Homo sapiens: one gene and its partners. The protein of the gene in region 3 purifies or fractionates together with the protein of the main gene of each other region. This does not show direct contact. Each region holds a gene or a part of one and is shown on either strand. Other genes may lie near its edges. The genes, in order: STK39, RGPD5, LGI1, TOR3A, CHST12, CAMK4 and ELF2.

The links.
Region 1: the proteins of LGI1 (region 3) and STK39 purify together in Homo sapiens (affinity purification with mass spectrometry; one large-scale study listed by BioGRID and IntAct). This does not show direct contact.
Region 2: the proteins of LGI1 (region 3) and RGPD5 purify together in Homo sapiens (affinity purification with mass spectrometry, with the first as the bait; one large-scale study listed by BioGRID). This does not show direct contact.
Region 4: the proteins of LGI1 (region 3) and TOR3A purify together in Homo sapiens (affinity purification with mass spectrometry; one large-scale study listed by BioGRID and IntAct). This does not show direct contact.
Region 5: the proteins of LGI1 (region 3) and CHST12 purify together in Homo sapiens (affinity purification with mass spectrometry; one large-scale study listed by BioGRID and IntAct). This does not show direct contact.
Region 6: the proteins of LGI1 (region 3) and CAMK4 purify together in Homo sapiens (affinity purification with mass spectrometry; one large-scale study listed by BioGRID and IntAct). This does not show direct contact.
Region 7: the proteins of LGI1 (region 3) and ELF2 purify together in Homo sapiens (affinity purification with mass spectrometry; one large-scale study listed by BioGRID and IntAct). This does not show direct contact.

The regions. Positions count from the first base shown.
Region 1 is NC_000002.12:168,164,096-168,167,595, reverse strand, and holds part of STK39 (STE20/SPS1-related proline-alanine-rich protein kinase), read left to right. Parts: intron 1-188; coding exon 189-297; intron 298-3,500. UniProt on the Homo sapiens protein: Effector serine/threonine-protein kinase component of the WNK-SPAK/OSR1 kinase cascade, which is involved in various processes, such as ion transport, response to hypertonic stress and blood pressure.
Region 2 is NC_000002.12:109,853,305-109,855,754, reverse strand, and holds part of RGPD5 (RANBP2-like and GRIP domain-containing protein 5/6), read right to left. Parts: exon of another isoform or gene 66-2,450; intron 1-65.
Region 3 is NC_000010.11:93,764,436-93,767,935, forward strand, and holds part of LGI1 (leucine-rich glioma-inactivated protein 1 isoform 1 precursor), read left to right. Parts: intron 1-984; exon of another isoform or gene 985-1,079; intron 1,080-1,907; exon of another isoform or gene 1,908-3,500. UniProt on the Homo sapiens protein: Regulates voltage-gated potassium channels assembled from KCNA1, KCNA4 and KCNAB1. It slows down channel inactivation by precluding channel closure mediated by the KCNAB1 subunit.
Region 4 is NC_000001.11:179,088,570-179,092,069, reverse strand, and holds part of TOR3A (torsin-3A precursor), read right to left. Parts: intron 1-3,500.
Region 5 is NC_000007.14:2,431,111-2,434,610, reverse strand, and holds part of CHST12 (carbohydrate sulfotransferase 12), read right to left. Parts: intron 2,049-3,500; coding exon of another isoform or gene 1,972-2,048; coding exon 727-1,971; 3' UTR 1-726. UniProt on the Homo sapiens protein: Catalyzes the transfer of sulfate to position 4 of the N-acetylgalactosamine (GalNAc) residue of chondroitin and desulfated dermatan sulfate.
Region 6 is NC_000005.10:111,230,884-111,234,383, reverse strand, and holds part of CAMK4 (calcium/calmodulin-dependent protein kinase type IV), read right to left. Parts: intron 1-3,500. UniProt on the Homo sapiens protein: Calcium/calmodulin-dependent protein kinase that operates in the calcium-triggered CaMKK-CaMK4 signaling cascade and regulates, mainly by phosphorylation, the activity of several transcription activators, such as CREB1, MEF2D, JUN and RORA, which play pivotal roles in immune response, inflammation, and memory consolidation.
Region 7 is NC_000004.12:139,128,719-139,132,218, forward strand, and holds part of ELF2 (ETS-related transcription factor Elf-2), read right to left. Parts: intron 1-3,500. UniProt on the Homo sapiens protein: Isoform 1 transcriptionally activates the LYN and BLK promoters and acts synergistically with RUNX1 to transactivate the BLK promoter. Isoform 2 may function in repression of RUNX1-mediated transactivation.

The DNA of each region.
Region 1 (3,500 bases), on a different chromosome or scaffold from region 3:
TAATCTGAGTTGATAATGTGGGTGAGAGAATTGGTCCTTATATACCTTCTTTGAAGTAATGGCTTAGGCAGCCCCTCAGGTAGGCTTTCGAGTAGGAAAGTTACCCAGGTACTCAACTGTGATTCACTTGTGTTTTGCTTGCCAATTTTCACCCCATGGTACTATGTCATGTTTTGCTCTTTTTATAGAAAGAAATTCAAGCCATGAGTCAGTGCAGCCATCCCAACGTAGTGACCTATTACACCTCTTTTGTGGTCAAAGATGAACTTTGGCTGGTCATGAAATTACTAAGTGGAGGTAAGTGGATTTTGTTGTTGTTATTTATTTGCTTGTTTTCTCTCCTTTTGTTGGAACCAGCATATTGGAGAAGACTTTAGATTGAATCCTTTCTCTCCTGTGTTTGAAAGTTTGTTTGGTTTCTCATTGCCTAGAGGATAACGTCCAGATTGCTTCACATTGACCTTCAAAGCTTTTCATAATTTTGCTTAACTTCCGAGAATGTGTATGTCCTCTTCTCCAGGTATGAAATGCCCGACCTTCTAGGCTGAGAGGCAGCCCCCGGAATGTATTATGTGCTCTCATGCCTTTGCCCCTGACCTGTCCTCTTTCTCAGCCTTGCATCTCTCCTTTGTTTTCCATGTGCTCAGGCCTAAAAGGTCACATCCTCTCCACAGTCACCGCTTACTCTTCAAAAAAGTTAGCCAGTCCTTTCTCCTTGAGTCCTTTCTTTTTAACATTGTTCAGGTCCTTAACACATTGCAGTTTGCTGAATTATCTCAGTGCCATTTATCAGAATGTTCTGTGATGATGGAAATGTTCTGAGGTGCTGCTATCTACTTTTTACTAATCCCATGTGACTCTTAAGCACTTGACATGTGGCTAGTGTGACTGAGGGACTGAGTATTCAATTTTAATTAACTTACATTTAAATCACCTTGTATGGCTCCAGTATTGGACAGTGCATATTTAGGTTGTGGACTTTGTGAAGATTGTCTAATGCACTTTGAATTCATTGAACTTGGCGCCCAGTAGGTGCTCACTAAATGTGGTTTCAGTTGACATGGGGAGAAATGTGTGCTACATATTCACTTGCAGTGTTGATCAGAAATGGCACTATTGTCATCCTATTGTTGCATTTGGGAAGGGAAAGTCACTTCCTCTCTCTAGCTTCAGATCCCTGCAGTGATGCAAGCCATTGACAATTTAATTTACAAGGTGCTTTCACATCCTGTATTTTATTTCTTTTAATCTTCTAACATCACTATCAGAGAGGGAATGATAATGATAACCGTTGCCTTTTTTGAACACTTACTCTGTGGCTAGATCCTGTCCAAGGCAATTTACTGACCTTATCCCATTTAATCTTCACAGTGTCCCTGAATGGCCTGTGTCACCATCCCTGTTTTTCAGAAATTACACCAAATTTCAAGGGAGTTTAGCAACTTGCCCAAGGTCACACACATAGTAAATGTTGGTGCTGGAATTTGTGACTTTAACATCTGTTGACTTAAAAATTTGTATGCTGTGCTGCAAGTATTTACACCTTCGTTTTGCAGACATGGGCACTGAAGCTTAGAAAGCCCAAGTGATTTCCTTGGGAACACCCAGCATACCCACATCTCTGGTGTGTTCTCTTTCGAGGGCTTGATTCTCTGGGTATCTTTCTGAGACATGAAGTATGGTTTAGGATCAGAGGAGAACATTTTGCTGTGCCTGGACAACCCAAAACTAGCATAGCAGAATTTATATGATAGAGCCTATTTTAATCTGCAGATGTCGAGGGAGGTGTTTTAATGTTTTCCTTTTTTAAAAAGGAAACTCTCTTGGATCAAGCAGAAGCCCAAAAATGAGATGACGAAGGCATTGTAATTGGCTTGGGTCTGCTTGTGTAGGTCTCGGTGGGGAGCCCTGGGGAGCTTAGTTCTGTTCTGTTTTCAGTCTTCCTCAGTCTTATTAGTCATTGTTTCCTTGAGTGCCTACTTCAGTTTTTAATTAAAAAGAAAAAAAGAAAAAGGAAAAGAAAAAGGAAGCCTGCCAGAGCTGGACTGCAGTATTGAGTGCTGGGACTGCCCCTTTATTCAGCAGAGGAACTTGCGCTTTGCCAACAAGATGATCTTAAGGCATTCTCTTTTTGTGGGGTTCCACCAACTCTGAGGAAATGAGAAATTCTGATGACTTGAGACCCTGAATAGTCCCAAATGCTCTGCTCAAGCTGAAGATTTTACCTTTTGCTTTATGAAGCTGAGAATCTTCTGTTTTCTGAGGAGGATCTGACAGAAAATTTCTTTGTCTTTTTGAGTCCAATTTAGCCTCTCTGGGCTTTAGGTAAGAACAGATTTTAAACAGGTTTCCACAGGTAAGGACGTGGGCAGACGTGGACTCTTGTTCATTTTTCTTTTAGCAGGACAGAAATGCATGCATGCCTGGTATGGTATATCCTTATACAATAAAAAGAAAATGTTTTTGGAATTATCATTTTTTAAATGACACAAAAATCTAAGAGTCAACAAATAAACAGAGGTTTTTTTTTCCTCTGGGGAAAAATATGCATTTGTTTTCTTCTATTTCATTACATTGAATCTCTTAATGAGGGGCAGGCAGCTGTATCTGATGGGGAAGCTCAATCCTCTTAGTTAATTATAAAGAGCCTAGAGCCAAATTCAGGTCCTGAGGTAAGCCGTTTGTTAACTCTTCAGAAATGTCAAACCCCCAGGTAATTTTGGCTTTTAAACTGACCCAGGGGTTTGGAATACTAATTAATATGTGTTGAAACATGAATTCACAGTGCCAAGGATACTAATCTGTATATGGTAACAAAGTACTAGGTATCTGTTTGTTTATTGTAAGTGTTAGTGCCTCAAATATATCAGGTAAATGAAATAAAGATCAGCCAGGCTCAGTGGCTTATGCCTATAAGCCCAGCACTTTGGGAGGCCAAAGGTGGGCAGATCACTTAAGCCCAGAAGTTCAAGACCGGCATGGGCAACGTGGTAAGACCCCATCTCTACAAAAAATACAAAAATTAGCCAGGCGTGGTGGCACGTACTTGTAGTCCCAGCTACTTGGGAGGCTGAGGTGGGAGGATCGCTTGAGCCTGGGAAGTTGAGGCTGCAGTGAGCTGTGATTGCTCCACTGCACTCCAGCTTATATGACAGAGGCAGACTCTGTCTCAAATAAAAAAAGAAAAAGAAGGAAAGAAAATAAAGATCAGGTAGTGTCACAGGAAGGAATCTTCCGGTTATAAGCAGAGGTCTAGAAACAACATACTTCTTTCCCCCTCCCACCTGTGATTTAGGTCCTCAAAGAGTGTGTTTTTTTTCTCTCAGCAGTTCACTTCTGCCTTTTCTCCTGGCCTCATACTCCTTTCTTTGTCAGTTCAGACTTTTTGCACCCTCTTTGGAGGGTTGCTCTTAGGAATTTTTGTGAGAAATACTGTAACCAGAAAAGGAACCAGCCATGGAACGGCCATGAACAGCCTTCTGGTCCCTGACCCAGAATCC
Region 2 (2,450 bases), on a different chromosome or scaffold from region 3:
TTTTTTACTGATCACATGCCTTTTTTGGTGGGGGGGGGGGGTTCTTTTTTTTTTTTTTTTTTTGAGATAGGGTCTTGCTCTGTCACCCAGGCTCGAGTGCAGTGGCGTGATGAGACTTCAATGCAGCCTTGATCTCCCAGGCTCAAGTGATTCTCCCACCTCAGCCTCCCAAGCAACTGGGACCACAAGGTGTGTACCACCATGCCTGGGTAATTTTTTGTTTTTTTGTAGAGATGCAGGTCTCACTGTTTTCCAGGCTGGTCTCAAATTCCTGGGCTCAAGTGATCCTCCCACTTCAGCCTCACAGTGTTGGGATTGCAGTCACGAGCCACTGTACCCAACCATATGTCATTCTTTAGACACACTGCTTACTAAATTTCTCTTTTTAAAGGATATACTGAATTTCCGGTTGAGCCAACTTAACAGCTAATTTTCTATTTTAGCTTTAAAACATTGATAAGCAACATGAAGCAATCTAGAACTTAACCTTTAAATGGCTTTATTAAAGCAATCCAGCTATGAAAATTATGCAGAAATGATTATCTACAATCTTACCAGCACATAAGAAATTCTTCCTCTATTCTGAAATACCATCTTCTCACAATATACTTTGATGTTATGAATCAATGTCTGTTCTTGAACATTATTTATTGTCTTTCTCTATTAAACAATTCCAAAATAAAATTTCCAGCACAACTAAATATTGTTGACGATAAGGGGATTTAAAAAAAAATTCTTTTAAAACAGAAGCTTATATACAACTTAGAATCTAAAACCAATAGATTTATGGGAAACCTTAAAACTGAACCACAACAAACAAAAACCAAAGTTTTAATCATTTAAAAATCATGTTTATTGAGGTACAACTTACTTATAGTAAAACCTGCCCTTTTCAGCATATAGCACTGAGTCTTGACAAATGCACAGTTACGTACCACCACCGACCAAGGCCTGGCACATTTTCATCTCCTCAAAGTTCTCCCTGGCTGCTTCTCCCACTCCTTGGCAACCGCTAACCTGTTTTCTGTCCTTATAGTTCTGCTTTTTTCAGTGTCATATAAGTAGAATCACACTGTACATAGTATTTTGAGTCTGACCTCTGTCAACTGGCATAATGCATTTGAGAATTACCCATGTTGCTGAACTGGCAGTGCATTCTTTTTTATTGCTGAGCAGTATTCAATTGCACGGCTGTACCAGTTTGTTTATTCATTTGCCAGTTGAAGGATAACTGAGATCTTCCTCGTTTTTAGCAATTTTAAAGAAAGTTTCTACGAATAATTGTGTACAGGTTTTTAATTAAATGTTTTGGAGATATAATTCATATACCACATAATTCACCTTTTTAAAGTGCATAATTCACTGGTTTTTAATATATTCACAAGGTTTGTGCATAGGTTTTTGTGTGAATACTGGTTTTCATTCCTCTTGGATAAAGATTTAATTTGGTATTACCCTTCCAGACACCTTTCTGTGTTTTCATACGTATATATGTATGACAGTTTGACCTTAGGCAGAGTAGCATTTTCAAAATTTTACATGGGGAAACTTTCTAGAGTTAAAGTCATTTTATTTTTCTGTTCTGTCTGGTTTTATCTGCGTGTTATTTACAATCTGCTGCGTAACAAATTACTACAAACTTAGTACCTTAACACATATTTATTTCACAGTTTCTGTGGGTCAGGAGATCAGAAATGGTTCTATTTCAAGGTCTCTCACAGGGCTGCAATCAAGATGTTGGCATGGCTGGGGTCTCATCTGAAGGCTGGACTGGAGAAGAATCTACTTCCAAACTTATGTGGTAGTTGGAAGAATTTAGTTCCTCAAGGCTGCTAAACTGATGGCCTGTGTTCCTTGCCTCTGGGATGGTAGCTTGCTTCAACAAAGTGTGCAAGCAGAGAAGACAGAGAGAGGCCGCTAGCAAGATAGAAGCCACAATCTCTTGTAATCTATCATTCTTGCTGTATTCTACTGGTTAAACATAACTCATTAGGTTAGCCTACTGGCTCTCAAGGGGAAGAGATTATACAAAGGCATGCATTTCTGGAGGAGGGAATGAGGGCAAACAATTCTGAAAAGTCTGTCTTCCACAACCTGAAGAACTTCTAGAAAGTAGGAGGAAGCGATATTGCTTAGGGATGGACAACTTGGCACTGGTTATGTGTTCCAAGTGAGGTAACCTTGTTCCCAAGAATAAAGAGAACCAGACGACTGTAAACATTTCCCTAAACTGAAATGCAGACTGTTGTATGTTCACCTGAAATGAATGGTGTAAGCTGAATATAAGATTTTTGACAAAATAAAAATTTTGCTGTGTTCTCAGATCTGGCAGGCTCCTGCCCTTGTGCAAACAATGTTCCTGGCAGCTATTCATCTCCTTAGGTAAATAAGAATTGGAGAAAAGCTGTGCTTAGATAGGGTGCATTTGCTCTTGCCTTGGAAGGCTGTTT
Region 3 (3,500 bases):
TTCAGTTGATTAGTGATGATGGTGATGCTTGCTGGTTGTTGATCCTGTGGCTAATACGGGCTACAGAATGTCTGCAAGGGCTTTACAGCATCAGCTGTAATATCAAAACAGCTGACCCTGGTGAGCTGGCAATGAGGCAGACAACACAGACTTGTGGGCAGATAAGCATGGGTTCAAATCCCCACTCTGCTTCTTCCTAGTTGTATGATTTGGGGCAAGCTTAATCAAGTCTTGATATCTATATCTACAAAATGAGGAAGAACCGTAGTACCTATTGCACAGAATTACAGTAAGGATTAAGTAAAACAATGCATGAAAAATGCTTTGCAAGGTTCCTGTAACTCAATACACATTAGCTTTATTACAGTATCTGAAAATCACTTTAATTGGAACTACCATAACATCAGATTAGTGTCTGATTGTATAATCTGGGTTTGCCGATAATCTCAGCTTTAAACATTTTGTGGTTCTACACACAGTTCCCCAGCAGAACTTGCTGAGAAATCTTTTCTTTAAATACTTCTTACAGGAAACATGAACTATTTACCTTTCAAAAAAAAGTCATAACCCTCTCCTTTCTTCCTCATGAATAAAATGACTGGCACCACGTTTTGTAAAACATGCCAGATTTTGTTTAAATAATTAATATTGGCAGTCTTCAGATGAGTGGTTCTATGGTAGCATAGAAAGAGGCCTAAACTAGAAATCAGGAAACATGGGTTTGAAACTCAGTTTGGCCACTATTGGGCTGCGTGATCCAATAGTTTGGGTAGGTCACAAAACTACCTAATAGTTTGGGTAGGTCACAAAATATCACTGGACCTCAGCTTTTATTGCATAAAATATTAGAGGTAGATTAAACTGTGGTTCTGAAACTCAAATGCTAGTGGGGTTTGGGGCGGTAAGACCAATGAAGGAAGCAGTTGAGTATAAGACAATAAGGAGTAGTGGTGACTGAGGTAAACCAGAGAAGACATGTCTTACCTAAAAATCCTCTGCTCCAACTGACTATTGCTGATGGGATTGTGGTACATGCACATGGAGCCCTATCTTCCTCATTTTTAGGGGAAGGTGGAATTCTGGAAGTAGATTTTTAAACAGGATAAAGACCAAACAAATATAAGTTGGCATTTTGAGACCCTTGCATTCAATTACATCTAAGGTCTCCTCCTATCTTAAAATTCTGTTGTATTCTACAAACAGTTACGTTAATATAATATAGAAATGGCATGGTTAAAGAAATGGACAACGATGGCTTGGCGCGGTGGCTCACGCCTGTAATCCCAGCACTTTGGGAGGCCGAGGAGGGTAGATCACGAGGTCAGGAGATGGAGAACATCCTGGCTAATACGGTGAAACCCCGTCTCTACTAAAAATACACAAAATTAGCCATGCGTGGTGGCGGGCGCCTGTAGTCCCAGCTACTCGGGAGGCTGAGGCAGGAGAATGGCGTGAACCCAGGAGGCGGAGCTTGCAGTGAGCCGAGATCGCGCCACTGCACTCCAGCCTGGGCGACAGAGTAAGCCTCCGTCTCAAAAAAAAAAAAAAAAAAAAGAAATGGACAAAGATTATTGAATCAGTTCTAACAAACCAATACATTAGGTTGTTCATTGAAAGAAACTCATAATATGAAACTGGCTGTTATAAGGTTATTAATACAATAATTGTAGTTCCCAATCTCCCAAACAGGTCCAAAGGGACCTTACCAGGCTCTCCCTGTGGTGGTTGATGATAAAATGATGTTTCAGTATCCCTCTCATGGAGCAAGGATTGGAAAAAAATTGTTAGGCCCATTTTTATATAGCAAGATGGCAGGTGCTTGCATGTGTAAAATGTGATCAAAAGGCAATAAATCTTTAAAAATACAAACTAGAATGTATACATACAAATAACTCTTGACTTCACAGAGGGCCATAGATTTTGCCCAACTGTGCTTCCATGGCTAAAGATTTCTGGACCCTCCTTTGAGAATTGTCTTCATTGCCAGTTTACAAGCCACGCAATAAAACCAGGCAAGGTTTTATTAGAGACATTAGTTATTTTTGTATTGCTTGGTGCTAAGCATTTTATAGATCTCTTTTTTTTTTGAGACGGAGTCTCGCTCTGTCCCCCAGGCTGGAGTGCAGTGGCGCGATCTCGGCTCACTGCAAGCTCCGCCTCCCGGGTTCACGCCATTCTCCTGCCTCAGCCTCCCGAGTAGCTGGGACTACAGGCGCCCGCCACCACGCCCGGCTAATTTTTTTGTATTTTTTTAGTAGAGACGGGGTTTCACCGTGTTAGCCAGGATGGTCTCGATTTACTGACCTCGTGATCCTCCCGCCTCGGCCTCCCGAAGTGCTGGGATTACAGGCGTGAGCCACCACGCCCGGCCTATAGATCTCATTTTTAATGTCATCATCATGGTAACCTTTTGAGGTAGATATAATTATCTCCATTTTGCAAATGAAGCGCTGAGTCCTAAAAGATAACCTCCTCAATGTCACGCCCCTATTAAGTAGCAGAGTTGGAGTTTAAACCCATGTCCTCACTTTTAACCACTTCTGTCTACTTCCTCCTGAACATGAATCATCATGCTTCACTTTGCATAGTTTTGTTCCCAAAATCAAATCCCCTCTCAAAGGGTCAACCTTTGCCATTAACAAGAGTTTTCAGGAGAATGTGCCCTAATTCCTGGAGACAATGACTGAAAGGAGTTTCAAAAGCCCTTTGAAAGAGTGGCCGCATTGCTGGCAAGAGCAGCTAGTTTCCCTAGGTTGCAACTCTCATTTATATGTGTAAGCTCTGATCTCCTTGCTTAAACAAAAATAGAGAGAAAGAAAAGAAAAAAGCAAAAGAAAAAGGCCTTATTTACTTTAAAGTTACACCTTAGACTACTGTTGTCTAAACTTGTGTCCTGTGGAGCAGTTGACCTGAAAGAAGAGTTCTGTGCTCAAATAAATTTGGGAAACTGCACGTTCTATCCCTGCTTGGTTATTTACAATGAAGTTACCTTGGCATAGAAACATCTCTGAAATTATTCAAAATTGTTTCACTTTTCTTAACATCCCATAGAATATTGGTTCTATGGAACATACAGTACTTTGGAAATATATGCATGTGATAATTCATCTTATTTTTAGCTTAACTATTTGTACCCCACCTCATTCTAGAGAGGTTGGATAGCAAAGGATACGCAGGTGGAAAGAATCTCATCCTAGTGGATACATTAAACGGTCTGTCTCCATATAAGGAGCAACTCAAGACCATTTTGTTAGTGTGGATTCGTTGATGTGACCTCTGGGAGTCAGGCTCCTCAGTAGGCTCTCTACCTGGTCAAGCAATTTAGCACACACCCCTTCTTTAGGGACCTCCCAGTAGATCTCCATCTTTGGGAGGAAGGAGATGACTTCTTGCAGCTCATTCAACAGGAAAAGGCTTCTGAGTGTGTAAATATACACTGTCACTGTTTTTATTTGGAGCAGATTTCATCACAGCTATTTTCTAAATGGCTAAACAAGCAT
Region 4 (3,500 bases), on a different chromosome or scaffold from region 3:
TTCACTGCCAGAATTTACCAGGGGCTGAGAGCTCCCAGCTGGAGGAGCCCGGCAGGAACAAGGGCCATCTGCAGTGCTTGCTCAAGGTCAGTTGCTCAGCCAGGCTTTCCCCGGGGAAGCTGCTCACACCACTCTTCCACTTTCTGACACTGCCCCTGCTGCAGGAAGGCCTTCCAGGCACATGATCTGTGCACACAGGAGCAGCCACAGTTGCATCAGCTGAGGCAAGACCCTGCTGCCAGGGCATTGCCCCATCCTGCATTCCCCACAGGAGGCAGGCAGCACTGTTTACCTTGGCAGGGGCTGGAAGGCAGGATCCAGGGTGCTGTGAAACCCCACAGAGTGATACTCCCTCACCCCATCCTAGGGGCATGGACTCCAGGGCCTTCTCCATTCTGTAAGGTGCTTACATGGGTAAAGAGAGGTCCCATCACATAGGGCAGGAAGCTTGGCCTGTTTATTTCTGTAACCCCAGTGCTATGTGCGTATCAGGCACTCAGCCTTTAGTAAATAAAGGGACATCTCTGCACATGTGTCTGCACCATCTCCACCCTTCTCAATCTCTCCTGTTTTGTCCCATAGCCAAAGTCCCTTTTCTTCCACCACTTTAGAGGCTTTAATCTCACCCACTGACCCATAACCTGGGGCCCCTCTCTACGCGCCGCCCCTCCCATCTTCAGGACCACCACTCTGGCACCAGCGTTCTACCTTTAGACAGACACTGTCTTTCTGGAGCACCTCAATTCCCTTCCACAGCCTCCCAGCTCATCTGCTGACCTGGATCGCTGGGAAGTCTGGAGGGGCCAGAGGGCACCTCTCTCAACCAGCCCTCATCCCCCGTCTCCAGCCCCTGCCAGGGCTGATCTCACCAGCCCTTATCCCTAAGACCCCAAAGGAAGGGGACTTCAGGCCTCACCAGAGAACTGGTTGTTACTGGTAACAAACCCCATGCTAACTGCTACATCTTTCCTAAAGAACAGACATAGACTCAGTCATCTCTTTGAGCCTTAGTGTTCTCATTTATAAAGTCAGGACTGGACCAATCTAAGCTGTCCTCTCATTAGTCAACAGGCAGCCAACAGACACTGGGGGCTGGAGCGCAAGGCCCACCACGACTCCACAAATAATTTCTATTTGTGTAGTTCTGTAATTTTTCAAAGTCCTTTCTATCCTTTTCCTGACAACAGCACAAAGGAAACAGGCTTTAATTACCCTTGTCACTTTACAGCTCCCATGAGAACAGGGCAGCAGCTCCGATCGCAGAGTTCCACGTTCCTGTCCTGCCACGTGAGCCCATTCCTGCAGCCTTCTATACTTGGCAGAAGTGGGCGAAGTAATGTTACTTTCCTGGTGCCCAGTCACCGGCCCCAATTCCCTGGCCCGGATGAAGGACAGGCTCTGAGCACCACACTCAACTCCCTGCTTCAGCTCCCACCTCCTCTCTCCTGCCACCAGGAGGAAGCCAGCAAAGCCACTGGCAACTCACTTCAAACAGCAGGTTTAGGATTTATTTCAGAATTAAACTGCTGCTCTTCCTTCGTGCAGTATGACTTGGTCACTCTAGCAGTTTGAATCAGCTGTGCTTTTCTTTCATGCCCTAGAATCCTTATTACAGTGGATGATTAACTGAAGCTCATTATAGAAATCAAGTCCAGAGACTCCAATATCAACAGTGTGTCTCCTCCCAGCCATCGCTGGACTACCTGAGAACTTGAGGTTGAGAGGCTGCTGCCCTGGACAGCCTGGGCACAGACTATGTCAGCCCAGCCCTCGGCTGGAGGGGGGAACCTCTGGCTCGTAAAGGCTGGGCACAGGCCCACACCAGAGCCACTAGAACCTAAGGCCACATCTTTTTAATGTGTCCTTTACATCCTTGTCAAAGGCTCCTGGGGGACCTCCCCACCCTGCTGTGGCATGGAGGAGTCTGGCAGGCGGCTTTCCCGCAGGCCCCCCCCCCCACCCCGCCCACAACCACATGGCCTCGGACAGTCCACCCAGGCTGGGTCACTGGGGGAAAGGACAGGCAGCTGGAGGGTGGTGCTGTCAGGTCGACGGCCAAAATACTACAAAGGCTATAACATTTGCCTGGAGACTGCAGGGTCACCGGGTCACGTTAGGCAATCACGGCCCAGGTGAGGTTTTCCAAGCTGAGAAGTGGGTGGGAGAGTCTGTGTGGCCGGCACCACCTGAAGCCGGGAGACCCCTGTCTCGGGGAGAGGGAGGAGGAAGACACTCAGCGCAAGGGAGATCCCTGTGGAAGCGAAAGGGAGGCCCGAGGCTGGGTCACCATGCTTTGCTCCGTGCCGTGGGAAGGACTGGCTTCCGCATCGGTGGTTCAGAGGGTCCCCTGGACTGCCCGACCCAGGGCTCAGGTGGAGAAACCACAGAGCACCCAGGTGACTCCTCTGTTCAGGCTCATCTGCATGTTGCAGCCCCCACCTGACTCTCTGTAACAGGAGGAGAGGTGAGCCCGGCTGCCTCCGAAGGTGGGAAATAGTACAGAACGTGGGAATAAGAACTAACTGGAAGAATGTATTGTCCTCACCTCCTGGTTCTGGGCACCCAAATCATGCAAGAGATCTCTCTCTCCTCTTAAAAATCACCCTGGGCGCCCCACTCCCCTCCCACTTCGCAATGCATTTTAAGTCTCCACAGCTTCACCTGCAGACCAGGAAGGGCTTCCCGCCACTACACAGAAATCCCAACCCAGCAACGGCTTAAACCTGTTTCACTTTTTTTTTTTTTTTTGAGATGGAGTCTCTCTCTTGTTGCCCAGGCGGGAGTGCAATGGTGTGATCTCAGCTCACTGCAACCTCTGCCTCCCAGGTTCAAGTGATTCTCCTGCCTCAGCCTCCCGAGTAGCTGGGATTACAGGCACCTGCCACCACACCCAGCTAATTTTTGTATTTTTAGTAGACAGGCCACTGCGCCTGGACCCTGTTTCACTTCCTCTTGTGAATCCACACCGAAACTAGATCTGCCCTCCACAGCTCAACCCTTCACCCCTCCACACTCCCCAAGCTAGGATGAAAATCAGCATCCCCTCACCAACTTCCCCATCCTCACAAAGTGAGCCCTGCAGCTTGGGAAACCCCCCCAGCAAGCAAGTGCTGGCCTGGGGAAGGCGAGGCCGGAGTGGAGTTGGGAAGGGAGCACTCAGTTTGACTCCTACCGAGGCTCGAGCTGTTGTGAAGCCTTCAAATTGGGTCAACAAGGGCCCAAACTTGACTTGTAACAGACACAGGACTCCCCCAGTTGGAGCCTCCGCAAAAAGATGAGGTTGGACAAGTTATTTCTAAGTTGGCTTCACGCAAAGATGTCAGTGAAAGCACAGGAACCTCAGTGCAGTGATTCAGTGACTGGGTCCCGCATGGTAGCGTCACAACTGAACTACAGGTACTCAGAGGAAGCATGGGTTTCTCAACCCGTATACCCTGGATTTTAAGCCAGTGATGACTTCTCATAATCGGAGAAGAAACAGACTTCCAAGGCTGAAGGAA
Region 5 (3,500 bases), on a different chromosome or scaffold from region 3:
TTTTTTTTTTTTTTTTTTTTTTTTTTTTTTTAGTAGAGACAGGGTTTCACCATGTTGGCCAGGTCTCAAATTCCTGACCTCAAGCGATCCTTCTGTCTGGGCCTCCCAAAGTTCTGGGATTACCTGCCTGAGTCACCCGCCCGGCCTTAACAGCCATAATTTAAACTAGACAGTATGGGAACAGCTGGAGTTAGAAATCCTAGAAATCCTGCTTCTGTAACTGACCGGTTTACCTCTGACTTGACTTCAAACAGGAAGCCCTGAAGATTGACCTTTTCAAGTACAACACTTAAACAAAGAACTTTCCCTCTGGAAGGATTTGTCGGCTACCCTTCCAAAAACAGACAGGTGCGGCCTGACTTCAAGTGCAGGCCCCGCCCTCCTCCGGTGAGTGGCCCTAGCCCTGGAGGCAGCTCCATCAGCCTCAGCATCCCCTCCCGGCGCCCGCACGCTCAGAAAAACCACAGGAGCGGGCGAGCGGGCGAGCGGGCGGGCGGGTGGGCGGGCGGAGGGGAGAGGGGATATTTTACTCCAGCATTCCCTTCCACATTTCGTATTAAATACCTGAAATATATTAATCTTAAAAAACAATATCGATACAGTACTCAATGGATAGAGGCAGTGGAGTGAACAAGAAGCCCAGATTGCAAAATCGTAGGTCATAAAAAAACTGGAGTGCGCGTGCGTCAGGTTCCAGGCACGCGAGAAAAAGCAACGCGAAAGCTTTCAGTCTCGGAGGAGGTTTTCGGGCTTGGGGTAGCCGAAGAGAACAAAGTCGGCCTCGTAGAGTTTATACAGCTGCTGCCTCCAGGCCAGGGGGATCTTGGCGAACCAGTCCTCCTCCCAGCTGCTGGCGGTCCTGTTCCGGTAGCTCGGGGGGAAGCGGAGCTGCCGGTCCACCTGGAGTAGCTGCAGCAGCTGCGCGGCGTCCTCGTCCAGAGTCTCCAGCTTCCCCACGAAGTCGTAGTCGATCTGGCACGGGTGGCAGAGGCGGTACACCTGCCGCCAGTGCTCGTTGAAGGGCGCCAGCTTCTCCGTGTGCGGGTCCAGCAGGTACTGGATGAAGTTGGCGAAGGACACCTTGAGGCCAGCGCGGAAGGCCTCGCGCGCCGAGGCGGGCAGGCTGGTGTGGTTGGCGTACAGCCGCAGCATGGGCACGGCGAACTTGCGGTAGAACTCCTCGTTCTCCAGCTCGAACTTGCTGCGGAAGGCGGAGATCAGGCGCACGAAGGGGTCGCGCACGAAGAGGAACTTGGTGTACTTCTTGAGCTTGACCTTCATGAGGTGGCGGGAGAGCTTCCCGTAGCGGCGCCAGAACTTGTTGAAGGTCAGGTGCGCGCTGGCGTTGTGCACGTGCTCGCGCGGGATGCGCAGCGGGTCGCGGTAGGGCGCACCGCGGTGCAGCAGGCTTCCGCTCAGCACGATCATCACGCGCTTCCAGTTGGTGCAGGCCACCTTGGGCACGTAGCAGTAGATGGCCCCGTGCCGGTCGTCCACGATCAGGTGGCTCAGCTCCGAGTTGGGGATGTCGTCGAATGCGCGCTCCTTGGTGGGGAAGGCCAGGCTGGAGTTGGCGCAGAAGCCCCGCAGCACGCTCCTCCGCTCCGCCTGCTGCCGGCCCTGGTCTGGGCTGCGCCGGGCGTCGCGCGGGGACCAGTCGTAGCCTCTCACGCTCTCCTCCATGCTCCCCGGCGCAGGCGGCTGCTCCGTCTCCTTTCTGGGAAGGTCGCTCTGCTTCACGCCAGCACTGAGAAACTTGTCCAGAAACTCGTCGACATCGGAGTCGGCCGTGAGCTCCCTGTCCCTGTCCGGCCCGGGCGTGGGCAGCGGCGGCCCCGTGTGCGGCCTAGAGAAGGACGTGTGCAAGTAGAAGTGCGCGGCGCCTGCGCTGTCCCAGTACACGATGATCAGCAGGATCATGAACACCGACCCCAGCACCAGCCACAGCCGGAACAGCCGGGCCTTGGTCATCCTGCCCCGGGCGGGCTGGGCCCTCTCCGGGCCTCTCACTTCAGCTTCCTGCAGAGCCGGGGCATCCTGCTGGGAACCTGCAGATGCAATGACACACTAGTTAATGACTGAGGTGCACTGGGGCTCTGACTCCTGCCTTCTGATCAGTGGGGGACTGGGGTCCGGAGGAGCAGGAGCGCTGGGCCACGTGATATCAGCTCGCCCTCCAGAGGGGCTGGAGGCTGAGGTCAGCAGTGCAGGGAGTCTACACATCCATGTGCCCGAGCACCAGTAATGACCCTGGACGCCAAGGCTCGCGTGCTTCCCTGGCTGGCAGTACTCCACATGTGCTGACACTCGCCACTGGCGGGAAAGTAATATTGCCCACAACTCCCAAGAAGAGGACGCCTCCCAGGGAGTGGAGACCAGCTCCAGGTGTGAGCCCTCCTGGACTCTGCCCTCTGCAACTCTTCCCAAGGCTGATTTTTTTTTTTTTTTTTTTTTTTTTTTTTTTTTTTTGATATGGAGTCTCGCTCTGTCGCCCAGGCTGGAGTGCAGTGGCCCGATCTTGGCTCACTGCAAGCTGCACCTCCCAGGTTCACGCCATTCTCCTGCCAAGGCTGATTTTAATCTTCGAATCTATATCCTTTTCCTATAATAAACCATAGCCACAAGAATAACTGTGATCAGTGAGCTCTGTAATCTTTCTAGCAAATCATCAAACCCCACAGTGGTCTCAGGGACGCCTGCATTTGCTATTGGTGTCATAAGTAAGAGGGGTCTTGGGAACCATTCCTTAACTTCACAGTGACCCAACAACAGGAAAATTGTTTTGGCAACACCCACTCTACTTAAGTCGAATGCCAATGGAAAAACTGCACCCTACAGCTTCATCAGGGCCACCCTGAGAGCTGACCTTCCACACCACCCTGGCTTCCCAAAAGTAAGTGGCACATTGCTATTCCCCTGCCAGGCACCAGGGGGTGTTGGTGGGGCTGAGCTGGGAGCTGATACCCCTTCCTCTGCCCATGGAAGTAGAGGTGCTTCCTCTGTCTGTCCCACCAGGGTACTGTCAGTGTGGTCCAGCAGGGAGCTAAGCCTTGACCCCACCTGGCATCCACAAGGTGGAAGGAGATGGTGTGAGGCAGGAGAGTCCACACTCTGACTCCCTCTCCCCCAGCCAGGTCAGGGCCCAGTAGGAGCTGAACTCCAACTCTACTCCACCCCTATCTGGCACCCATGACATGGCGTGAGGTGGTTAGAGGTGGGGCAAGTTGGCCCTCTACTTTCTCACCTCCTCTCTCCCGGGAATGGAAAACATTAATCATGCAAATATTAATGAAAAGAAAGCAGGAGTGGCTATCTTAATATCAGATGAAGCAAATTTCAGAAGGAAGGAAACTACTAGAGACAAAAGGACATTACATAATGACAAACAGTTCAATCCCCAGGAAGACATAACAATCCTAAACATGTATGCACCAAACAACAGAGCCTCAAAATACAAAAAGCAAAAATCGATAGAGCTAAAGGATAAACAGACAAATCCA
Region 6 (3,500 bases), on a different chromosome or scaffold from region 3:
TTTTCTTCTATGTGACTGTTTTGGTTACAATGGCAGTAAGTTCTTATCAAAACCGTTCATCAAGTAGTCTTGAGATGCATAACAGTTGCACGTATGTACCCACTTCCCCTTTCTGCACAAAGACACACCTTGCAATATGATTTTTTGTTTGCATATTTATCTGTATATTTGCTTTAAACTCACTTTTCATAAAGTAGAATGTTATTTAAATATAAAGAAGTTTATTCAGTATCCACTTATGACTACCATTCTTTGACCCAGTCACCATCCAATAAAATGTTTTTTGAGCACATGCTTCCAAACTGTGTACACTAACGTACCTATTAATGGTATATATGTGTTACTTAACCAACATTAATGTGCTTTTTAAAACATCCAAAAATAAAAATTAAAGACAAAAATTAAAAAAAGAAACCAAAACAGATTCTCTAATACTTTCTTCTAGCACCTCATTGTATTACACATACCCTGGCTACGGGCATCCCACCTTATAGACCTCTGCTATAGTCGAAATATGAGTGGCTGATTTAATTTAACTCTATTCAATATATAAAAAAGGAGTAATTTTAAGTTTTCAAAAGATTGCTTAAACAGGTTCCTCATTTAAATGACCTTAATTATCCACCTGAGACATCTGCATAGCATATAGAAGGATTATTCAACACACAGCTAATACTAGCAAATGGAAAAATTAATTCAACTTTACTAGTTAGAGGAAAATCTTTCATCAGTAATTTATTTAGCATATTATTGTCACTCTAAATATAATAGAGGAATTATCAATTTGAAACCTATTTAGTTATTATGTACAAAACAAATTACCCGCCAATAAATAGTCTTTTGATATGAACATTGTTCACGGTATGGAAATTTAACTTTCACGCCCTTCGAATAAAGGCTCTTCATTTTCACAAACATTATGTGAAGTAAACATCAGTCATATAATCAGTATCAGACAAAAAGAAATAGGAGGAAGAAAGAGAGAAATGGAACTAGCCAACATGTTACATTGGTAAGAACTGTAACTGTAGCAGTTTCAGTAGATTTTGATAAAAGATGAGTATGCATTTAAAGCTTGTGCCCACGTGGAAAACTAATAAAAAGTTGACATTTTCAAAGTGAAAGAGAGACTAAAGGTAGTTCCTTGAATAAGTTAAGATTTGATATCATTTTAACCTGAAATTCTCATGCAACTGGGGAGGAGCAGAAGTTTAGCTTGACTGGTCTAGGTTAGCAAACCACAGACCAGACCTAGGAGCCGTTTGATTTTCTAGAGTCTGCAATCTAAAAACAATTTTTGCATTTTTAAAAATCAAAAGAAGAATACTATTTTGTGATGTGAAAATTATATGAAAGTCAAATTTTACTGTCATAAATGACATGTCACTGGAACACAGTAATGTGCTATTGTCTGTATGTTGTCTATGCCTGCTTTCTCTCAACCATGGCAGAGGGTAGAGCTGCATCAGAGACTGAATGGCCTTCAAGCCTAAAATACTTACTGTCTCTTTTTACTCACTCTTTACCTGGTCTAGGTAACCAATCTAAGTCCAACATTTCTCCTTTCTTACCTAGTCATAGGCTATGGGATTGTTTTTTCCTTAAAAAAAAAAAAAAATTTACATCATCAGTTTTCTCTTATCTAGCCCCATGTTTGATCTACATTATAGGTAGTGGCAAATTCTGAGTCCCACAACCTCAGCCCAAGACCCAGCTGCTTCTATAGCTGACGTTTTTCTCTCACAATGGTTACTTTATCTACAAAGTGGTTTTCAAGTGACACAAGCCTACTCTTTTTGTTTTTTTTAAACAGGTTGTCTTTGGTCTGACATCAACTTACCCTGCTGACCCAATCTGCCATTGCAATGTTCATGCTTTATAAATTTTGCAAAACAAAAATGTATATCCTGAATTTTTCTGTCCTTTTTTTGCCTCTTCTTAGAATGTACCATCTGCCTGACATGCTGTTTGCCAGTGCTCTACCTATTAAAATCCTGCCAAATTTCAGAGTCTACCCCTCCCCCATAAAGACACCCCAGTCCTCTCTGTCACAACTCTGTCATGAAGATGGCTATTGTTCTTAGATTTCTAATAAGTTTTATTCATTTTACTTATTCATTAATTTATCTTTTATTAAATATATTGTTGGTGCCTTATTAGTAGTACCCTATGCACTTGGAGGCCAAATATTGATTTATCATGCTCATTTACACTCTAGGCCCTTACCCCACCACATGCACACTGCCAGCATACATCGTCTAGGTCAGAATTATTGAAAAGCTTAGACTTATAAACAAGAGGACTTTAGGTAGCACAAACGCATGGAATTAAATAACAAGGAATAAAAGAGAGAGCGAGAACATCCTTTTCTTTTCAATTACTTTTCAATGATTCTGATTACATCAAGAAGAAAACTTCAATTTGTGCTACTCTGGTTTTAACTCTGCTAATCTTTGATCATCTCTTTTTTAAGGAAGAAATCAGTCCTCAGAGTTACAGCCTTCTGCATGTGGACAAGTCTAGCTATAATTTACTAAAAATGTTATGTTTCCATTACAATTTATTTTTACAATTTGTTTCTATTTATGGCATATACAATTTGCTTTTATTCACAGTTTTCAATTTAGTGAAAATTGTATTCTTGGTAAATAAATTTAGGTTAACAAAATAAGGTAATTTAAATAAAAATATTAAGCAAATAGCAGAAGTGGAATACACATAAAACAGAAATCTTATGGTAATACATAGAAATGGGAGAAACATTTGGTTGTAGCAGATACTCAGTAAAGCCAAATTAACATAATCTATCAATCTCCTTGTTGTTGTTCACTATCTACATAACTGAAAGAAAATGTGTAAAACACTAGCTTCAAGACATGATTCTCAAGAGGAGAGAGGGGACACATTTGACAATGTTTAGAGACAGTTTTGGTTTAACAACTTATAAGGGTGTCACTACTGGCAGCTAGTAGGTAGAGGCCAGGGACACTGTTAAACATCCTACAGTGCACAGGACAGCCCCCACAACAAGGAATTTCCTGGGCCAGAAGTCTATAGTGCCTAGATTGAGAAACCCTAGTCTAAGAGAAAAGAGGAAGGTCTACTTGCATTACCCTTTACCCATCACTATGAATCACTGTCTCTCCAGACACTGTTCTTTTCTTTATTTGATCTTTACCACTGACAAGATAATGACTGAGGAAAATCTCTGACAAACTGTATTGAAGGGTCCACATCCTTTATGTGCTAATACTATGCCTTCGATATTTAGACCTAACTTCCTAATTAAACCATTGGAGTCATGAAATCTTCAGATAATCCTGTACTACAAATAGATCAAGAAAACTGAGGTAAAGATCAATATAATTTGAGTAAAACCTTGACTCTAGCTGCTATCAACTTCATGAAAAGTTCCTCTTTGTCCTGAATTACATGGTTCCTTGCCTCAAACACCATATTTTGCAGTATGAATTTGACCTTGAAATTTTACAAAATCAATA
Region 7 (3,500 bases), on a different chromosome or scaffold from region 3:
ACCATGTTGCCCAGGCTGGTCTTGAACTCCTGGACTCGAGCAATCCACTTGCCTCAGCCTCCCAAAGTGCTGGCATTACAAGCATGGGCCACCATACCCAGCCTCAAAATGTTAATAACGACCAAATTCTATTTCAGTTTTCAATCTCTACTGCCTCCCCGCAGACTCATACATTTATTATTACCCTCATTTAAAAAATTCATTCTTCCAACTTTCTCTACCACTCTACTTTCTTTTTTGAAATGGAGTTTCGCTCGTTGCCCAGGCTGGAGTGCAATGGCGCAATCTTGACACACCGCAACCTCTGCCTCCCAGGTTCAAGTGATTCTCCTGCCTCAGCCCCCTGAGTAGCTGGGATTACAGGCATGTGCCACCATGTCCAGCTAATTTTGTATTTTTAGTAGAGACAGGGTTTCTTCATGGTGGTCAGGCTAGTCTCAAACTCCTGACCTCAGGTGATCCGCCCGCCTCAGCCTCCCAAAGTGCTGGGATGACAGGCATGAGCGACTACCCCCGGCCTACCACTCTACTTTCAAGCGTCTCCTCTGACTCTTCTTTCATCTCCATAGACTCAAGTCTAGCCAACTTAGTGAGGTTCTATCCTCAGTGTCTCCTTTCTTTTTGCCCTATACTACCTTCTCAAGTAAGCCCACCCATTCTTATGGTTTCAAATAGCACCTCTATGCTGATAATGACTAAGTATTTGTCCTCTACTCTGACTCATCTTCTGAATTCCAAAACCAAATTTTAAACTACCAACTTTAACATCACTACAGGAATACTCAGTCAACACTTCAAGCTTAACATGTCTAAATGGCACAAATTATCTACATCTGTCCCTGTTTCCCCATTCTGTGTTCTTTAAATCTTGGTTTCTTCATATTTAAAAAAGAGATTTTAATATTTCTGTCCTTTAAAGTCCCATGACTTTATATGCACAAAGTTCTTAGCATAGTATAAGTACAAAGCACAGAGTAAGTTATTCAATTAGTGACAGCTGATATTATATTTTAACAATAGAAATAGTCTTCAAATCTACTATTTGCCCTCAACTTTAGAGGGCACCTTTTCACATCACAATCAGAACTGTTTGTGTTACTTCCTTGCATAAAAAGCATTAATGACTCCCCTTTGGTCTAAAAGGAAAGTTTAACAAATTAAACAATGGCTTTAACACTCTGAAATATAACCCCAACCCACCTGTCATGGGCTGAATTGTGTCCCCCAAAAAGATGAAGTTTTAACCCCTAGCTTCTGTGAATGTGACCTTATCTGGAAATAAGGTCTTTGCAGATGATCAAGTTAAGACAAGATAATTAAGATGAGCCCTCACCCAATCTGACTATGTCCTTACAAAAGGGAAATTTGGACTCTGAGACACACAAATGGGAAGGAAAACCATGGAAAGACACAGGGAGAACACCATCTACAAGCCAAGGAGTGCCTGAGGCTACCAGAAGCTAGGAGAGAGGCATTAAAGAGATTCTCCCTCCTAGCCCTCAAAAAAAAACAAACAACAATAAAAAAAAAATCTATCAACACCTTGATTCCTAAATTCTGACCTCCAGAACTGTAACACAATAAATTTCTGTTGTTTAAGCAACCTAGTTTACAGTACTTTGTTACAGCAACCCCAAGAAACTAATATACCACCTTTATATCTTATTTCCCTACATTACTTAACATAAATTGATTAGTGGCATTGCTTCTAATTCCTAAATGTGAACATTTCCAAGACTTTTGCTCATGTTATTTTGTAGCCTTCACATCTGTCCAAATCCTTTTCATCTACTGAAGGCTTTTCATCAAGTTCCAGGGAATCTTCTATAATCCTCCAATCTGAATTAATTTTTCTATCCTACGTATTTATAGAACAAGTTGTTTGCCTAATATTACCACTGTTCATTGTCCCATATTATAATTATGTGTTTACATATACAACTCCTTGACTGGTTAGTAGGATATTTGAGAGCAAGAGTTATATCGTAGTCAATTTTTATATCCTCCTTAATAACACATGCTTCATATAAACTAAAGTGGCATTTAAGTACAGATATTTGTAGCTTGGCTCAAAGAATAATAAAGTCAACAAATTTTAATATTAACAGGTATTTATAAGTTCAACATTTGCTCATCTATGGAGGCAAGTAACTTCATGAGCCTTTTTTCTGCCATATGATACAGACCAGAGGACACTGCATGCAGCTATTCAGATAATTATTGCCTTGTACTGTGTAGAAGAGTAGCTATTTTTATGGGAGAAAGGGGATGGAAGAGAAGAAACCAGGAGTCTTTGCTTAAAAATAAAATAGCAAAAAATAACACATGTACAAGGTTATTTTACTTAGCATTACTTTGCTCAAGTCACCATGGGTCTTGGCACAAGCTGTCTAATTCCCTACAAGCTAGGGTGCAAATAAAAAAATACAGGATACCCAGTTAAATTTGAATTTCAGAGAAACACTGAATAATAACTGTAAGAATGTCCCATGCAATATTTGGGACATACTTAAAGTAAAAAGTCATTTGTTGTTTATCTGAAATTCAAATTTAACTAGACATCCTGTATTTTATCTGGCAACCCTACTGTAAGTATTAACAGTGATCTCAAAAACTTCCATTTAAGGAGAGAGATTCTTAGTTTAAAGAGGCAAGACAAGTGCAATGCTGCAGTGTTTACCTAGAAAGTGCTTTTATATGCACTCAGTCATTGCTCTCCAGGTATCAGAAGTTTCCAAAGACAAGTACAATGAAATGGCTGAAAGCAGTGGTATTGTAATCCTTTTCTCAATGTACTTTAGGAATATATAGAAAGATAATAAAATTCAGGAGTATGTGAAAAGTACATAAATTTGTTCCACATTTTCTCTTTCGAGGTAGAGTAAGGTTACCTTAAAAAATCTTATCAAAACTGAAAAATGCCGTTTGGCAGGCTTTAGGGAGGACTCATCTCCCCTACCTCTCATGGTTTAACCCCAGAAACCACTCCAAATAAATACGTCACTAGAATAAATAATGGTGCACTTGCTATGCAAACCCAGTTTTAAGACAAGTCCCCTAAGCTAGATGTTCATAATGCCAAAAAAAAAAAAAAGAGATAGAAAACATACACCCATACTAACAAACATCCATACAATGAGAGACTATTCAATATCAATTAAGCAATTAAGGCAGTTAGAGCTATATACTGGCATGGAAAAATATCCATGATACAAACAAGAGGGGGTGGAAGGAGGAGGAAAATGAGCCATAGAATAGTACTGTTGTCTGATTCCATTTATATATTTATTTAGCATATACATTTAAAAGTCTGGAAAAAATACACCTCAAATTATTAACCTGGTGAAAGAGAGGTGAGCAGACAAAAGATGGATTTTCATTTTCTCAGTATGTCTGAGTTTATTGTTTTTTACAATGATCCTGGTAATTAAGAAATATCAAAATACTTTTTTCATTTAAAAATAACAATTGGTACAAAAACCAAAAAAATAAAATAAATA